Linked DNA regions of Homo sapiens: region 1 is linked to region 2. A link means that fine-mapping ties the variant in region 2 to the expression of a gene that starts in the linked region. Tissue or cell type: whole blood. Region 2 holds a variant in brackets; the other region holds the start of a gene. All regions are shown on one strand. Distances are from middle to middle.

Evidence for each region. PIP is the estimated chance that this variant, and not a neighbour inherited with it, causes the effect.
Region 1: PEPD starts here. The variant in region 2 is fine-mapped to the expression of PEPD in whole blood (GTEx, PIP 0.94). The same link has a PIP of 0.9 or more in esophagus muscle.

What each region holds. Positions count from the first base shown.
Region 1 is chr19:33,517,194-33,525,291 of GRCh38, forward strand. It overlaps PEPD (peptidase D), which reads right to left and starts at 4,598. Exons shown (of 15, transcript NM_000285.4): 1 at 4,551-4,598. The coding sequence starts at 4,567. LOC105372370 (a long non-coding RNA gene) reads left to right here and starts at 4,741. Exons shown (of 3, transcript XR_935918.3): 1 at 4,741-4,821; 2 at 6,228-6,303. RefSeq lists enhancers at 3,899-4,862, 4,863-5,825 and a silencer at 4,608-4,807.
Region 2 is chr19:33,389,728-33,397,825 of GRCh38, forward strand. PEPD (peptidase D) reads right to left here. Exons shown (of 15, transcript NM_000285.4): 13 at 1,568-1,752. Among named protein-coding and RNA genes, the nearest start is that of CEBPG, 20 kb to the left of the region's middle. RefSeq lists enhancers at 1-612, 2,784-3,548, 5,536-6,365, 6,366-7,195. The variant A/G (reference allele first, on the strand shown) is at 3,708.

The DNA.
Region 1 (8,098 bases), 130 kb after region 2:
ATTTTGATACCTGTATTTCCATATAATTGGGTTTTACTTTTGTAATATTATGTACTTATTTCATACATTTAAAAACATTATGCCAGCCAGGTGTGGTGGCTCATGCCTATAATCCCAACATTTTAGGAGGCCGACATGGGCAGATCACCTGAGGTCAGGAGTTCGATACCACCTGGCCAACATGGTGAGCCCCTGTGTCTACTAAAAATACAAAAATTAGCTGGGCATAGTGGCACACACCTATAATCCCAGCCACTCGGGAGGCTGAGGCAGGAAAATCACTTGAATCTGGGAGGCGGAGGTTGCAGTGAGCCAAGATCAAGCCACCGCACTCCAGCCTGGGTGAAAGAGCAAGACTCCGTTTCAAAAAAAACAAAAAACAAAAAACAAAAAAAAACCTGATGCCGAGAATGGTACGTAGGTTTCACTGATGCCCGTGGGGTCTACCGCACAGACAAGGAAAGATCTCTGCACTAGAATGTGGAGCCACTGGCCAGGTGCGGTGGCTCACGCCTGTAATACCAGCACTTGGGGAGGCTGAAGTGGGTGGGTCACGAGGTCAGGAGTTTGAGACCAGCCTGGCCAACATAATGAAACCCCATCCCTATTAAAAATACAAAAAAATTAGCCAGGCATGGTAGTGGGCACCTGTAATCCCAGCTACTCGGGAGGCTGAGGCAGGAGAACCACTTGAACCCGGGAGGCGGAGGTTGCAGTGAGCCGAGATCGCGCCATTGCACTCCAGTGTGAGACTCCCTCTCAAAAAAAAAAAAAAAATGAAATGTGGAGCCACTTCTAGACAGGGTCACACCGCTAAGTTCCCAGTAGGAGAGGCCAGCCAAGGACCAGCCACCTCCTCCCCTCAGCCTCCAGCGTGGGGCCAGGCACCAGACAGATGCTCAGGCAGCCCACTGGGCACCAGACCGTAAGCGCCAGGCTGGAGAGGGTTGCCACGGCGGAACAGGACCTCGAGGCAACTGGCCAGCAACCTCCACCTTGCACCTCTGTCTCCTGGGGCGGATAGGGGTGCCAAGCATACACAGAAACCAAGAGACAGCTGTGTGGAGTCAGGACCTGGGGAAGAGCCAGGGAAGGCACAGGGATACTCAGTGGCCAGCCTGCCTCCCATAGGCCCACCCGTCCCTAGCCCCCAGTCGGCCTGAGTCTTCTGCTCCTGGAGCACAAGGTTCACATTGTGGGGTTGGGCTCTTGACCCAGAATGTGAATTCTGCAGAAGACTCTCCAGAAGAATGCTGACTCCAGTGTAACCTACGGCTCAACAGGGGTACACGTCCAGGGCAGTTCACCTTTGCCTCTTTTTGGCTCTGCAACAGCTCCTGGGAGCCACTCAGTTAAAGAATTAAGGCTATTTCTTCATCCTACCCCTCGGAATTCTGTCCCCATTCCCCACCATGACTCCTTCCCTCAATCACTGGGAGTCTCCCAGGAAAGCAGGATGGGATGCTGGACTAATTTAGAGTAAATCCCCTTTTCATTCATTTCACCAAGCACCAATCACAGGGCAGCCACAGACTGGCCCTGCGGATACAAAAGAACCCCAGGGGTTCTAAGGATGCTAGGAGAGGCATGAAGGGAAGCAACTCCTAACCCACAATGGGCAGACGTGTAAAAGTGTACTGCTGGGGAGAAAACTGAGTGTTCTGGAGTTCTGAGCACTAAACCTTTACCCGAGGGCTGGGAAAGGCTTCTGGGAAAGGGAACCATCTGAGCTGGGCCTGCAAATACGTGAAGAATCATATAGAGGACAAGAACATTCCAGGGCTAGTTGGGTGAGTGTGCAAGGGAAGAAGGGAATGGAAAAAGCCATGTGGGAGAGCAGATGCAGACAGGTCTGGCTGGAGCTGACAGATTTCAAATTATCAATCCTGTCTGTGGAAAGCTCAAAGCATTGCTTAAGGAGACAGCAGCAGTGCCACCAAGTGCCATGGGATAGGGACCCCTCTCCATGAGGGGATGGGAGGTGACCTCAGCGCACTCTGTCTCAACCTGAAGCCTACACCCAGGCTAGCAAGAGAAAGTAGGATCAACCCTGAAACACCCCACATCTTAAAAAGAGAGATGCATTCAGAGTAGATTCTTGAGTTTCAAATTAAATCTGAGATGCTAGTTTAGGGCTTCCCCTACTCCCCAAATCATATGGGGCACACCCCAGTCACCTGGAACTCTCATGGACCCCCTCTGTCCCAGGCTCTGGTAGGATTCTACAGACAACCAAACCCAACTCCCAGTGAGCCCACGGCAATGGCCGTGACTTGCTGGCATCATGCCTCGTTATGCCTGACTCTATGATCTGTTCTGTGAGTGTGGCTAGGAGCTGAGCTTTGCGGGAAACACACTTAATCATTCTGCTCTAAAGGAAGCCACTGGGGTCAACCTCAGGCTCAAAGTACATGGGAAAGCCCCATACCAGACTGGGATGGCTCTTCCCAAGGAGACTGCCAGGCTCTGGAAGCTCCCACACCCTCTCAATAGCAGACCTCTCTAAGACCTGCCACTCTGTTTTGCCTCCCTCACCCACCCTGTGTGGTGGCCCAGAGAATCGGTTCTGCTAGAAAAGCTCTCATTCTGGGGCCAGGCGTGGTGGCTCACACCTGTAATCCTAGCACTTTGGGAGGCGGAGGCGGGTGGATCACCTGAGGTCAGGAGTTCGAGACCAGTCTGGCCAACATGGTGAAACCCCATCTCCACTAAAAATACAAAAAATTAGCTGAGTGTGGTGGCACACGCCTGTAATTCCAGCTACTCAGGAGGCTGAGGCAGAAGACTCGCTTGAACCTGGGAGGTGGAGGTTGCAGTGAGCCATCATGCCATTGCACTCCAGACTGGGCAACAAGAGCAAAACTACGTCTCAAAAAAAAAAAAAGAAAGAGAAAAAGAAAAGCTCTCATTCCAGGATCCAGTCAGTTCCAGACTTGCTCCCGTCCAGACATCAGCTTGGTTCCTTCAGGAGAGCAGCAGGTCTCAGGCCAGCTTGGAATCCTGAACCCAAATGCAACCCCTGGCACTCCCTGTGAGCACCGAGCCAGCCTAACCAGAGAGACAGCACACCCACAGCTGGGCACCAGCCTGCTCAGTCTACCCTTTAAAAGGGTCACAGGCTGGATTCAAGGATCTGACCCTGAGTTCCTTGACACCCATCTGAGACTTTGTCTGCACTGTTCTCTACCTGAAGGGAGTCTCATTGCTGAAGGACTAGCACAAAAGTCACCCAGGAAGTGAAGCCTTCCCACACTTTATCTGAGCTCAGAGTCCATGCCCCTCCTTTGCAAATGGCAAGACCACACGGCAAGCAGATGGATGACAGAGTCCCATGTGTCCATCTGTTCCAGTGGCCTGTGAGTACCTTAAGGGAAGACCCACTGCTATTCCTGGAATATAGCAGGTGCCCACAAAATATTTGATTTGTATGCTCTAAGCTCCCTCAACCTTGGGGGCCAACTTAGAACCCACTTTCTGTTGCCATTTTCCCTGTATCTTAAAAAGAGAGATGCATTCAGTCCACTAGATCCCCCATTCTGACCTCAGTTTCCAACCTGGCATCTGGAATACTGCTCCCTCCTACACCATGCCCCCTCTACCCCACTGTACCACCAGACCCACACCTTCTCCCATTGAACTCACACATAGCTCAGGGGAGCCTAATCTTTAAAAAACAGATCAAGCAGCTTGTAACAAAACCCTTCCAGCCCATCAGGGCAAAGTCTGAAGCCGCCACCTGGAACACCACACCTTCCAACCAGCCCCAGGCATGCACCCCTGTCCCCAGAACACTCTGAACTCTCAACCTTTGTCCCTTACCCTGGGCTCAGATGCTCCCTATCTGGGAGATTCCGCCCAACGCTCTGGTGAACCCATCTGTCCACCCTTCCTCCCACTACGACCACTCAGCTTTCTTTCATTTAGCCCAGTATGGAGCACCTACTGTGTGCAAGGCACCGGGCTACTGAGAAGCAGGTAACATACCTGCCCTTGCACTCTAAATGCAGAGAAGATAAAGAACAAGTACAAACAATGCTCTATATAGTTTATCAGGTGATGATGAGGGCACAAAAAGTGGGATAGATGGTTAGAGAAGGATTCCCTGAGGGGGTGACATTTGGCCCCTGAAAGAAATGGGGAAGTGCCCTGCTGGGAAAAGGGAATTCCAAGTCCGTCTCGAATACCGCCTCCTCCGGGAAGCGCCCGGGTCCCTGGGGTCCTCGCAACGCCGCCCTCCTACCCGGGGGTCTTGGCAGCGAACATGCGTGTCGACCCCAGCCCCCACCGCAGCCGCACACGGTGGGGCCGCCAGACGCGGGCAGGTGGGGCCGGAGCCAGCCAGGAGGGTGGAGAGGAGCTGCGGCCCCCGCGCTGACCCTGACTCGGAGCGTGCAGCTCGCCGACCGGCGCTGGGACTCCGGGCCAACGGGAAGAGGCGCCTACCCGCGGCATTCAGCGACCCCGGCTGACGCTCTCACCCGCGGTCCGGCCGGGACACCCATGCCCCTCTCCACGCCAGCGGGAAAGAGCGAGGGAGGCGCAGCACTCACCCGGTGGCCGCCGCCATGTTCGCCCGGCACCGGCGTCACGTGAAGTGCGGCGTCAGCTGAGCCCCTCCGGGTGCCAATGCATGGGGCGGGGTAAGGGCGGGGCAGGGGGCGGGGCATGGAGTCCTTGACCCACCTCCTCCAGAGCCAAATTCCACGGGACGGGAAGGGGCGGTACCTGGGGAAGGGCGGAGCCCCGATGGGGCGGGGCTCCCGGAGATTGGGGGCCCAAGAGCTCGGCCAGGATAAATGAGCGGGCTGCCGGCTGCAGACAGTAGGTCGGGTTAGCGGGCAGCATCTGCAGCCTTTTCGTGGTGGGAGGGAGGTCCTGAAGCAGAGGACATCTTGATTCTGGTTCAGTCCCCGATCTGGCGTACCAGCCCACCCGGGAGAAGAACACATAGGAATAAAGAAACCACGTGGGAGGAGAGGAGGGAGACTGACCCAGGCTAGGGTCGGGGCAGAGGTGGCGATTTTTGTTTAAGAAGGGAAAGGGCTTGAGCAAAGGCCGTGGGGCAACTGGAGGACTCTAAATGTGCAGCGTCCAGGAGAATGTGCGCGAGAGAGGGGCAGCCTAAGGGAAGCAAGGGCCAGACCCTGCGGGGCCTCCACTGTGGGGCCTATGAGTTAAGTCTGGTAGGATCTTTTCTAGGTTTCCTGGGCTGCAGAATGGAGAAGCTGGAGGAAGGGAAGCCAGGGAGGAGGGCAGGCGAGAAGTGGGCACAGCCGAGAAGGGTTTAGGAGGGAGAGTCTGCCAGAAGGCTTACTCCTCTGCCCCACTGGGCACTGGTACTGGGTGCAGAGTCCTGCAGAGAAGGTGTAGGGACCCTGCAGCAGACGCTGCCCTCCCTACTGCCAACAGAGTCAGGGCATTACAAGCACGGCCCAAATGCGTTGCACATGTGAGCTCATAGAAACCTCACCACAGCCCTATGAGGTCGAGACTATCTTTAAGTCTATTATACAGATGAGGAAACTGAGGCCAGAGAGTGCTCACACAGAGGCTGAGCTCATGAAGCCATACCCTGAGGAGTGACCTCACTGCCCCTGTGAAGGAAGGGGGCCCCACACTGTTGGGGGAGGGCGTCCCTGGCGCCAAGGGTGTACAGATGTGTGTGGTGTACAGATGTGTGTGGACAGGTGGATGGGTGGCCCAGGATAGGCGTGTGGGGCTCCTGACCCCACCCTGCAGCTGTCCCACAGCTGGAAGTGGCTTCTGATCAAAGGTTGTGGGTTGGGGGATGCTTCTTGTTTCTTTATCGAAACAAGGATGTGGGTCACCATGGCCAGGCTGGTGGGAGCCAGGGGCTATGACTGGAGAAGCAGCTTCTGTTTGTCCCCATGAAGCAGGGAGGAGAATAGGCCCCTTAAATAGGAGCAAGGGAGCCAGCCATAAGCAGGGTAGTGAAGGGCACGTGGCACAGTTACCTGGAAGCCCAGTACCATCCCTGCTGTCCTCATCTGTCAGGAGAGAGCTAATGGGGCCACCTCACAGGGCTGCTAGAGGGTTTTACACTCAAACCTGCAGGCACAGCCAGAGACCAAAGCTGCCAGGAGGAATGTGGCCCCTCCAGACAGCCCCTCCCACCTCCCGGTCCCAGATAAGGAAAACGAGAGCTAATGGAAGAGGGGGGGCCTCATCCCTTCTACCCCTTCCCACAACACATGGACAATTTGCAGGGGTCCCTGACCTCCAGGCAAGGTCCAAGAGGAGCTCTCTCCACCCTCTTGCCAGTTTCCAGGAAGAAGAACAGAGGTAAGGATTCACACCCCACTGCCTGGCCTAGGGGCCCCTGAGAACTTCTAACACCCCTAGTTAAGCAGTAGGTCCGCCTTCAGCTTAAGAAACTCAACTCCCTAGTAAGTGGCGCTTTAAAAAATACATAATAACAAAGGGTGAGCAGAATGAGCTTTCCATGCGCCTTCAAGGAAGGAAAACATACCCCCCAGCTCATTCATTGCACCTGCCTCCCACCATTTCTTTTGACATAAAATATGTCAAAATTAAGCCAGCTGCCAGCTCTGAGTGCTTACTAATATGAAAAAGAAGTCAATATCCCAAACACAAAATAATGGAAGGAAGGCACCCACCAACTGAGTGGAGCTCCCTTGTTTGTGGACAGTAATATGGAGGCACTGCCCATGACCCCTGCCCACCCAGGTCCCCTGCCCTCTCCCCTCCCCATCAGGGGCTCCGGCAGGGCTGCCCCTCACCCCTCACCCCTCCCCATCAGAGGCTGTGGCAGGGGCTCCAGAAGCCGCCCAGAATATGGGAGAAGACCATTTAGTTACTTATGCAGGGCAGACCCAGGACGTTGCTGGAGCCAGGAGGCAATTGGGGGAAGATTGATTTTAGAGAGTCGAAGTGGGAGTGTGTAAATCAGCCAAGGCAGCGCGCCAGGCAGCACTCTCATGCGGCATTGCCTCCGAGGTCACAGGCCCTTGTGGCCGAAACAGTCTCCTCTCGTCAAGCCCTGCAGGTGGCTGGTAGATGTCTGCACTCGGTCAGCCTGGTAGCCCGGTAGCCAGCATAGCATTATTCTCCAGAAGGGCCCCCCCAACTCCCGTCAGGCCTTGCAAAAGAAGCTTCACCCTGGGAAGACACCTCTTGTGTCCCGGGACACTGTGTCCAGCCAGGTTTCCCTCCTCCACCCATTCCCCACAATCTAGCCCCCACTCTTGCAACTCCGTGGACGCTGCTGACAGCTGGCTGCCTGGAGACGGCAGGCCCAGATGTGGCGGCCTGCTAGGCTCTGACTCATGAGCCACCCTTGGGCCATGAAGGGGAGGTCCCCGGGAAGAGCCCTGTCCATCTTCTGCTGTGGATTGAGGGCACTGGTCTACCAGAGGCTCTGTGGGACTGCACTGGAGGTAGCCTGGATGCTGGTTCTGCCCTGCACCACCCAGTTGTTGCCCACAGTGCCACTCCAGGACTGGCCATGCTGTGAGGGCCAGGGATCCAGACCCTGCCCTTGCCTAGAGGATCTTTGGTCTGGGGACAGAGGTAGAGGAGCCCTCCACACTGTCCCTGGGGAGTCCACCATCTGGGAGGGCCTCAGAACGGGGCTTCGAGGGTTCTGCTTTTGGCTAATGGGGAGATCCTGGGGGATTCTGAGCTGCAAGCTGCCGATCCAAACCCCTCTCTCCAGCAGGAGCTCAGGAGGATTAGCAGAGAGAACTGAAAAGAGCCAATAAGAGCCAATAAAGCCACTGCACGGGGCCGCCAGCCTCAGATGGTCAAAGCCCTACACAAGATGGCATTTGGGTGTTTTGCGATTGTTTGCTTTTGCTGAGAATAGAAGACTGGATGCAGAAAGCCAGCACCAAATAAACAGAAGAGGAAGAATAGAGGGGACTGTGGGTGTGAGATAGGGGCAGGGTGGCATATGGCAACCCAGTGTCTTCCCAAGTGGGAAAGCAAGGAGCGTGATGGGTGTGGAATGCCCAGGAGACCGTCTCTCTATCCTGGTTCTGGCAGATCCCAGCCTTGGGCCTTTGCAGGGCCTGCAGAGGTAGCCACAGCTCTCCCACTCCAAAGGCCTGTGTGGCCT
Region 2 (8,098 bases):
TCTGAAATCTTGAGGTCCACCACTGAAGTGGGGTGGGGGAGATTAGAAGGGATCCCCAGCGGGCACAGGGCAAGGCCTGCCTCAGCCCAGTGGCGCAGCTGCCCCTTCAGGGTGTTGGCTCTAGGGGCCTGCCCGGGGGACCTGCTGAGAACAGGGCGCAGGCGCCATAAGAGAATGGGAAGGGCTGGGCCGGGTGGAGCGCAGAGCCATGTGGGGAGGGCACGAGCCCCTGTGGCCCAGGAAGCGCAGCCTTCAGGGGTGGGGAGGGGTCCTGCCCTCACCGCGCCCATGCTCGCCTCTGCCTGGGCACAGGGCTTGACAAGGCCTCAACTTTTATTGGGCTCCAAGCAGAGGAGCCCCAGATGTGTCTGCAGGCCTGAAATAAAACAAATGACTTTTATAGGAAAAGCCATATTTTTTCCACAATGTTTATCTGTCAGAAGAATAGACTCTGAGCACAAAGAGGTGCTTACTGGAAAAGATGAAAACAGTTTGCTGCCAATTTTTGCTGGTGGAAAAAAAGCGCTTTGGCGACTAATGAATAACGAACCTCAGCTAACAATGTCTGGAAGGCCCAGCTCTTGGCTCCCTGCACACAATGGGATGAATAGACATTAGGAAATTAAAACTGATTTTGTTTCTCCAAATTTAACTGTTTACACTTGAGGAAAAAAATAATTGAATAATAATGCTTCTCTTAAGCAATTCCCCCCACTGCCCCCACCCTGCCAAAAAATCATTCTTAGTGCTTTCAAAACACCCTGCAGCCAAGAGGCTGAGCCTTGTCTTGGCTAACTGGCTGGGGGGCCCCAGGGCGTGCACGATTGCACAATCAGCCCCCTGCATTGGGCAGCCCGCCAAGGGCAGGGATGGGAGCGCCCCAGCCGCCCAGCCGAGAGGCCGTAGCCACCTGCCCGGTTGGGCCTCCCCAAGCCTCACTTACCCTCTGGGTGGTCCTCTGAGGGCCGGGGAACCTTGTCTGGAGATGGCCCCCAGCCTCCCTTATCTGCCAACGGGCCCCAGAATGCCTGGGGATGAGGAGGCTGCAGGGTCCCAGGTGTGCGGCCCAGGGGCCTGGGAGGAGAGGGCGAACCAGCGGCAGAGCAGGGCTGCTCCGGGTTTGTGAGGGGCCAGGGTGAGTCGCCAGTGGGTGGGGCCTCATCAACTCCCCACGCCCCAGGTCTGAATGAAGCCAGAGGCGGCAGGACGTGAGGGGTGCCACGTAGCTCCATCACGAAGACCTGTCCTTAGCACCACTGTCCTGTGGGGCCCCATGCACCGTATCCTGACTGTGTGCCACCTTCTGGACAGGTGACACCTGGGCCCAGCAGGCAGACAGCACCGCCTCTATGTCCAGTTCTGTGGAATGCTCACAGATGCACCCCTGTCTTGGCCAGGGTCCCGATTCCCCCCTCCTCATGGCCTCCGTATACCACAGGGAGCCATGGGGCCCATCCCTGCCATCCCAATACACGCCTGCTGCCTCCTAGAGTCCCACCCTGCCCTGGGGGTCAGGCTCAGCGGCAGCTGATGGGCAGGCCACTCCGCCTGCCATGTCCACACTGACCTCTGGGTAGCCTCCCACGTCGTGCACGTCAATGCCCAGGAAGTGGCCAAGCCCGTGAGGCATAAACACGGCCCCCAGGTGAGCCTGGACCATGGCGTCCACGCTGCCGCTCAGGATGCCCATGTGGGCCAGCTCCTCCAGGTGGATGCGGTCAGCCAGGCGGTGCATGTCAGGCCACCAGACACCTGTGGGCCAGAGGGAGCTGCCGTGAGCCACAGAGCCCAGCAGCCAACACCGCAGGGCCAGGGGCTGGGAGATGTGAAGCCCTCACACTGGCTGTGGTGGGAGGGCCTGAGGTGGGGGGTGAGGGGGCAAGGGTACTACATCGGGGGCCCAGGGGGACAAGGACTAGGGTGGCCCCCCGTGCTGGGCTTTCCCAGCAAAAGCTCTGGCCCTCGGGACCCTTCTTGTCCCTCCATTCTGCCTCTAGGGGCAGGTTCCTGTCACCTGTAGCCAAGGGCCCAGCCTGGGTCTACTCTGTAGCCCATGGTGTGTCCACCCTGAACAGCCTATGCTTCTGGGCCCAGGGAAACCTAGCCAAATCCCTGGGCACCAGGAGAAACATGCACGTCTCCCCAGTAGCAGACACCAGGAGACTCTGTGGGCTCTGGCCCTGAGGCTCAGACCCAAACCCTGGCTCAGAGCTCCGATGGGGTTTTGCTGCTGTGGTGCAGTGGGGAAGCCCGAGGCTGAAAAGAGGGGTCCCTGCACATCCCAGAATGGGGATGAAACACCCCTGGAGCTGCTGCAGGGAGCAAAGGTTTCTGGGGAGAAGGTGCGGCTGGCACGGCCCCACGAGCTGGCTGGCAGGGGTTCGGGGCCCCGCCTGCCAACAGCAGGGGCACCATCTCCAGGGGAGCCAGATGTCCAACTCCCGGCTTCAAATCCAACTCATCTCTGCCGCATGTTTGTGGGGCAAAGGCCACCAAAGAGAGAACTTCCTAAGCACAGAGCTTTGGGGGCCACACAGGCTCTGTGGGGCTCTGGAGCATGGCCGCTAGGAAGGAGGCCCTTAGAGAGCTCTCCACGTAGAGCCTCAGCAGCCCACGGGTGCGCCCGTCCCATCCCCGGACTCTGTGGAATCCCAGCATCAGCCTCTCCTCATGGTAGCTTCCACTGCTGGACTTGGCTTGAGCACCAGATAAGGACTCGAGGCCGGTGAGGCCTCCTGCCCTGGCCCCATGGGGGCTGGGTTTGGGCAGGCCACGTGCTGGCAGAGGCCGGGGCCCCAGGACACTCTGGCCAGGCACGTGGCGGGGGGCCCCTATCAATGTGCAGCTCACTGGCTGGAGAGGGCGCCCAGCAAGTCCCTGCGGCACCTCCTGGAGAGGTCCAGCCCCACCAGGCGGAGTGACCTTGGCTCCCGAGGGCCTCCCTGCCAGGCTTGCCTTGGCGCAGAGCCAGAGCCTGCTCTGCATGGTCCCGATCACTGCTGTGGGAGGGGCCGGGGAGACCCTGAGCTGGCGAGGGCTGGGCTGTGAGAAGCAGGGTTCTGAACCTCTGTGGCTGGCGGAGGGCAGATGATGGGCTCGGCTGGCGAACAGGGATGAGAGTCCACACTGGGACACAGGCCATCACCCCCGACACACTGGGCACAAGTCCTTCATGTTGGGACCCCTTTAAGTGCCAGAGTTGGCCACTGTGGTGCTGGGGTCTCAGGCGGGCTGGGGGTGCACGGCTTTGGGCAGGCAGTATGGCTGTTGCCCGCCATTCACAGCACAGCGCCCCAGCCACGGCAGCAGCCTAAGGGTGGCAGGGGTGGAGATGCCCAGACCTGCCCCCACCCCCCACACAGAGCAGGGATCCTCCTCAGAGCCCAGCTCCCCATCAGCCCAGCCTCCTAGGGGCTGAGGTGGGGGCGGCCGTCCCGGGGTCTGGGGTCTGGCGTGGGGGAGGCCGTCCCGGGGTCTGGGGTCTGGCGTCGGGGAGGCCGTCCCGGGGTCTGGGGTCTGGGGTCTGGCGTGGGGGAGGGCCCGGGGTCTGGGGTCTGGCGTGGGGGAGAGCCCGGGGTCTGGCGTGGGGGAGAGCCCGGGCAGACCTGGGGCAACTCTGGCTGCAGCTGCCCTGTATCTGGGGCAGCCCTGGGCACACACACCCCTGGCTGGCCCAGCCCGCACCCCTGGCTTTTCTGAGGGGCACA[A/G]CATCCCGGAAAAGGACACCTGGATAACTGCAGCCCACTTGGCCGCTCCCCCGCCTCCGTGAGCCTCAGCTGCCGCTGGTCAAACAGCCCCACCTCCGTGAGCCTCAGCTGCCGCTGGTCAAACAAACAAACAGCCACAAGGCAGGCCCCGGGGGGTTGCTCTCAGAGCCTCTGTGTCACCTGGGGGCTGGAGGCAGCACCCCGGACAGTGGCATTGGCCACCATTCCTCCATCGCGCATGACCAGCCAGCCCTGGTTCCACACTTGACATTCACTTGTTCCTGGGGGTGTGCGCCAAGCCTGCCCAGCCTCTGCTGCTGCTCTTCTCTGAGAACCCAGCCCGGACAATCCTGGCCCACCTCGCCCTTCCTCTCTGCTGCTGCATCCTCCAGAGGCCAGACCACCCCAAGGCACACAGGCCGTTTTACCTCAGGCCCTTTGCTATGGCCTGTGCCAGGCCTTGACCTGTGATGCCTCATCCAAGGGGTCTCTGCATAAAAGCTGTCCCCTCTCAGAGGAGACCTTCCTGCCTTGCTGTCCCAGGCCTGGTGATTTCTCCTTGCACGGTCCATCCAGCCTGCAGCCGTCCCCTGGACGGATCTGCTCGTTTGCTTCTCATGTCTCACTCCGAGGGTGGGGGTCTCCCGAGGGCACCGCTGGGCCTGGCATAAAGTGAGTGCCCCTCAGGTCTCCCAACAGCCTGCAAAGTTGGCACATGGGGCTGGGAGGCCTCCTGTGAGTGGCTCGTGCCCCAAGCCCAGCTCAACTGCTTCCTCTCGGACGCGCCCTTCTCTGGTCACCAAAGGGGAGCCCCGGGAAGTGCAGCCAGCTTTCCAACCAGGCTAACTTCAGCAGTGGGCTACGTTCTTGGCCCAGCCTCCGCAGAGGGCGGGAATCAGGTATAAATCATGCTCTGCGGTGGCCCTTCCCGGGGGCAGGCCCGGCGCCGCCCAGATGTGCCGGCCCGGGGGTCCCCTTGGCGCCGCTGGTCTTCCTTGCCTGTGCACCCTCGGGGAAGGCCTTGCACACAGCTCTCTTGGCCGGGAGCAGGGAGTTTCTGCCTGTGTGTGGTTAGGGTTGTGACAGTGATTCAACCTCCAGCAACTTGGCCCCAGCCTCTGGCCCGGATGGTGGTTACGACACCCACCGCCTGGGCGGGGGCCCCTGGAGTGTGTGAGGGTCACTGTCCTTGCACTAGGCTGGCAGGGTGGGCACCAACTTGAGGGTTCCCTTGCTGGCCTGGGCCCACTCTCAGGCTCCTCCCACCCTGGCAGCCTGGAGACACCGTCAAGCTCTCTAGTCCAGGCTGGAAGGCACCCCCGGCCCCTAGCCAGCCTATACCCAGATGCCACACTGAGAATCACACAGCAGAAATTGGGCACCAGCTGCCCTGCGTGCCCCAACCCCCAGCAAGCACCAAACCTCATTCTGGCTTTCCCGAAGCACCCCTGCACCTGCCCCACCCCTCCTGGAGTCTGCCTGGCTCCCTCCTCCGCTGCACACCCCTTGGATGCCTGGGCCATCTCTTTAGAACGAACGGGGCAAACAGGGCCATTCCCGGCCCCGGACGAAGCCCAGGTTCTCAGCTTGGCCTGGTCTCCAGCCTCTCCCTCACCCACTCCTGGGTGGGGTGGCTGGACCAAGGCCACGGGTCCCAAGAACTGGCCCTCCCTACCTGCTGTTTCCTTAGCTGGGGCCACCTCCTCCAAGCCCGTTTTCCCAGATGTGCTCCCATTCCTCCTGTGGGCCTCTGTGGTGAGGCTCCTCCTCCAGGAAGCCCTCTCTGATTACCCCTTCCTGTACTTTGAGAATTCACGGAACACACAGCACAGCTGGGCCTGGTTATGACCTCTGGGCCTTGCAAGGGTGGTGCCCGTACTCTGCTCTGTGCCTGGCATGCTGCGGATGCTTGGTAAACGCCTGGAAGGAGAGGAGCCCCAGCTTCTCTCATGGCTCTCCTGCAGCCAGTGTTGTGCCCCATCCCCCACTCCTCTGTGTACTCAGACCCTAGAACGGGCAGGGTGGCCTCTAGGTTAGTGTCCCATCATGCGCCTCATGAAATGGCAGGGCTCAGAGGAACAAGCCCCGCTGCTCCTGCCACCCAGGCCCCAGGTGTGGCCAGCGTAGCCCCTGAGTGGTCTTCTGGGTCCACTTGGTCTCCTCAGGCAGCACCCGCTCCTGCTGGGCCTAGGGCCCAGGCCAGCTCCTTGGAGCCTCAAAGCATCCATCACAGCCCCGAGGCCTCCTACCCGGAGTGTGACAGCCCCAGGGGGCTCCCGGGCCTGACCGAGCTACAAAGGCAGCATCCTCAGAGCTGCCTCCAGACAAAGAGCGCACTTCATCTGTGGAACATGGCCCTCGGGATGGATGGGTGTGAGCCAGGCTCTAGGGGTGTAGGACAGCAGGCTCCGGCCGGGGTCCCAGGGCAGGCCCTGAGGGCTGGCTGAGCTGGCACGGGGCTGAGGACCTCCAGCTCACCCCACCCTGCACGGGACGTGAGTAGAAGAACCCCATCTGCTGCCAGAAATTCTGGGGACCCACTCACCCTGCGTGAGAGCAGGGTGCTGTGTTGGCCCAGGCTGCTCCTCGAGTCTCCTCCCCCACACCCTGGCAGAGTGCCCCGAGGAGTAAGAAGAGGCCAAGGAACTGGCTCACCATTGCGGCCGGCAGGAGGGGTGGACATGGTGCCCACACTGAAGACAGTCCTCCCCGTCCTGGCACCTGCCGCAGAGGGTATCTATGACTGGGGTGGCACATGGCCGCCATGCCTATCTGCCTGAGCCCTGCACTCCACGCCGTCTCGGAGGATGAGGACTGACAGGAAGTCTAGCTGCTGGGCCCCTGCCCCTGGCGCTGGCTGGGAGGGGAGCAAAGCTGGCAGAGGTGCCCCCTGACCACGGGGCCACAGGAGACACATGCCAGGTGGGCCGGGGCAGGTGCTGCTGGGCCCCTCTCCCAGCCACCTGGTCATCCCGCGCCTCAGTGCCCCTCTCTCGCCCCGTCAGGACTGTTTTGGAGGTGGGGACACTTCCTGCCACTTCTTTCCCCTCCTCTGACCTCACATTGGCAGCACCCCCGTCACTCACAAGTGGCCAGGACCCTGAGGGCAGGGACAGAGCCAGGAGCGGGGGAACGAAACACAAAAGAGCTCATGAATCGTGGGCCACCATTGCTGTTCCAGGTTGATAGGAGCTGGGCCCCCAGTGACAGGGGCACAGGAGGCTCCTGGGTGAGCACAGGAAAGAGTAGAGAAAGGCGGGGAGGCCAGGGAGGGTGGGGGGGTGAGGAGAGAGGGAGCTGGGTCGGGGCTGGGAGGCGAGGCTACAGGAGGCTCTGGGGCTTGCAGGCGGAGGGCATGGGGCCCTCAGTGCTGGGGTCCTCTGGAGCTCCAGGGTGGCTGCAGGGACTGAGCCCGCGGGACAGGGACAGCTGTGCTGCTTCTAGGAACAGCCTTCCTGCTGTGGCTGTGCCAATGCAGACCCTGACTCAGGGCCACCCTGCCGGGCTCGCCCATCCGTCCCAGCAGCGCCTCCCCCCATTCCCCTCACCATGCATGCAGGGGTCTGCATGGGGTGGGCAGCCTGCCCCAACACAGGAGCCGCGCTGAGCTTGGATCCCACCCAACCTCCCGTGCATGGCACTCCCCGAGGTCCTGCAGCTGCTGGGCCTGCCCTGCCACCCGCCTGTGGACTCCCAGCCGCCAGGGTAGGGTCTCCGTCTGAGCGAGCGCAGCCTCCTTCCTCGCCGACTGTGAATGACAGTGAGGAATGCTCCCCCACCAGCCCTAGGATCAGGGGCCAAGGCCTGCATTCCTCAACCCCCCAGGGTCCTGACCATTCTTTCCTGCCTCTCCTTTGGGCTTAGCTATGGGGTTTCCTGCTTTATTTACTCTCCCTGGAAGGTCACAGGATGCAGTCGGGCAGTCTCGGTGGGGTGTTTGTCTTGGCCCAGGAATTGAACCCACGAACCCAGGGCATTTCCGCTGGGACAAGGCAGGGGGCTGACCTGGCCACGGCCTCCTCGATGCTACGGGAGGCGACCTGCCCCATCCGGAGGGCAGCTCTGTGGGCCCAGGGCCTGCCCCACGGGCCTTCACTGTGTGTGATCCAGATGGAGTCCGACTCTGCCCTTGGGGGACACCAATGCCACACAGCTCAGTGTGGGTGGTAGGTGTGGGGGGGCTGCTGGGGGGCTGCTCCATTCCCTTACACAGGGATCCTCCAGACCCCAGGCTGGGTCTGGGCAGCAAAGCCCAGTGGTGGGTGGGAGCGGGGCTGGGGGAGGACCTGCCTCCCATGGTCTGAGATGAGCCTAGCTGGATTTGGCCTTGTGGCCCCAGACACCCCTGCCAGGCCTGAGGCCTGTGCCTGCCCCAAGAGTCAGCATGAACC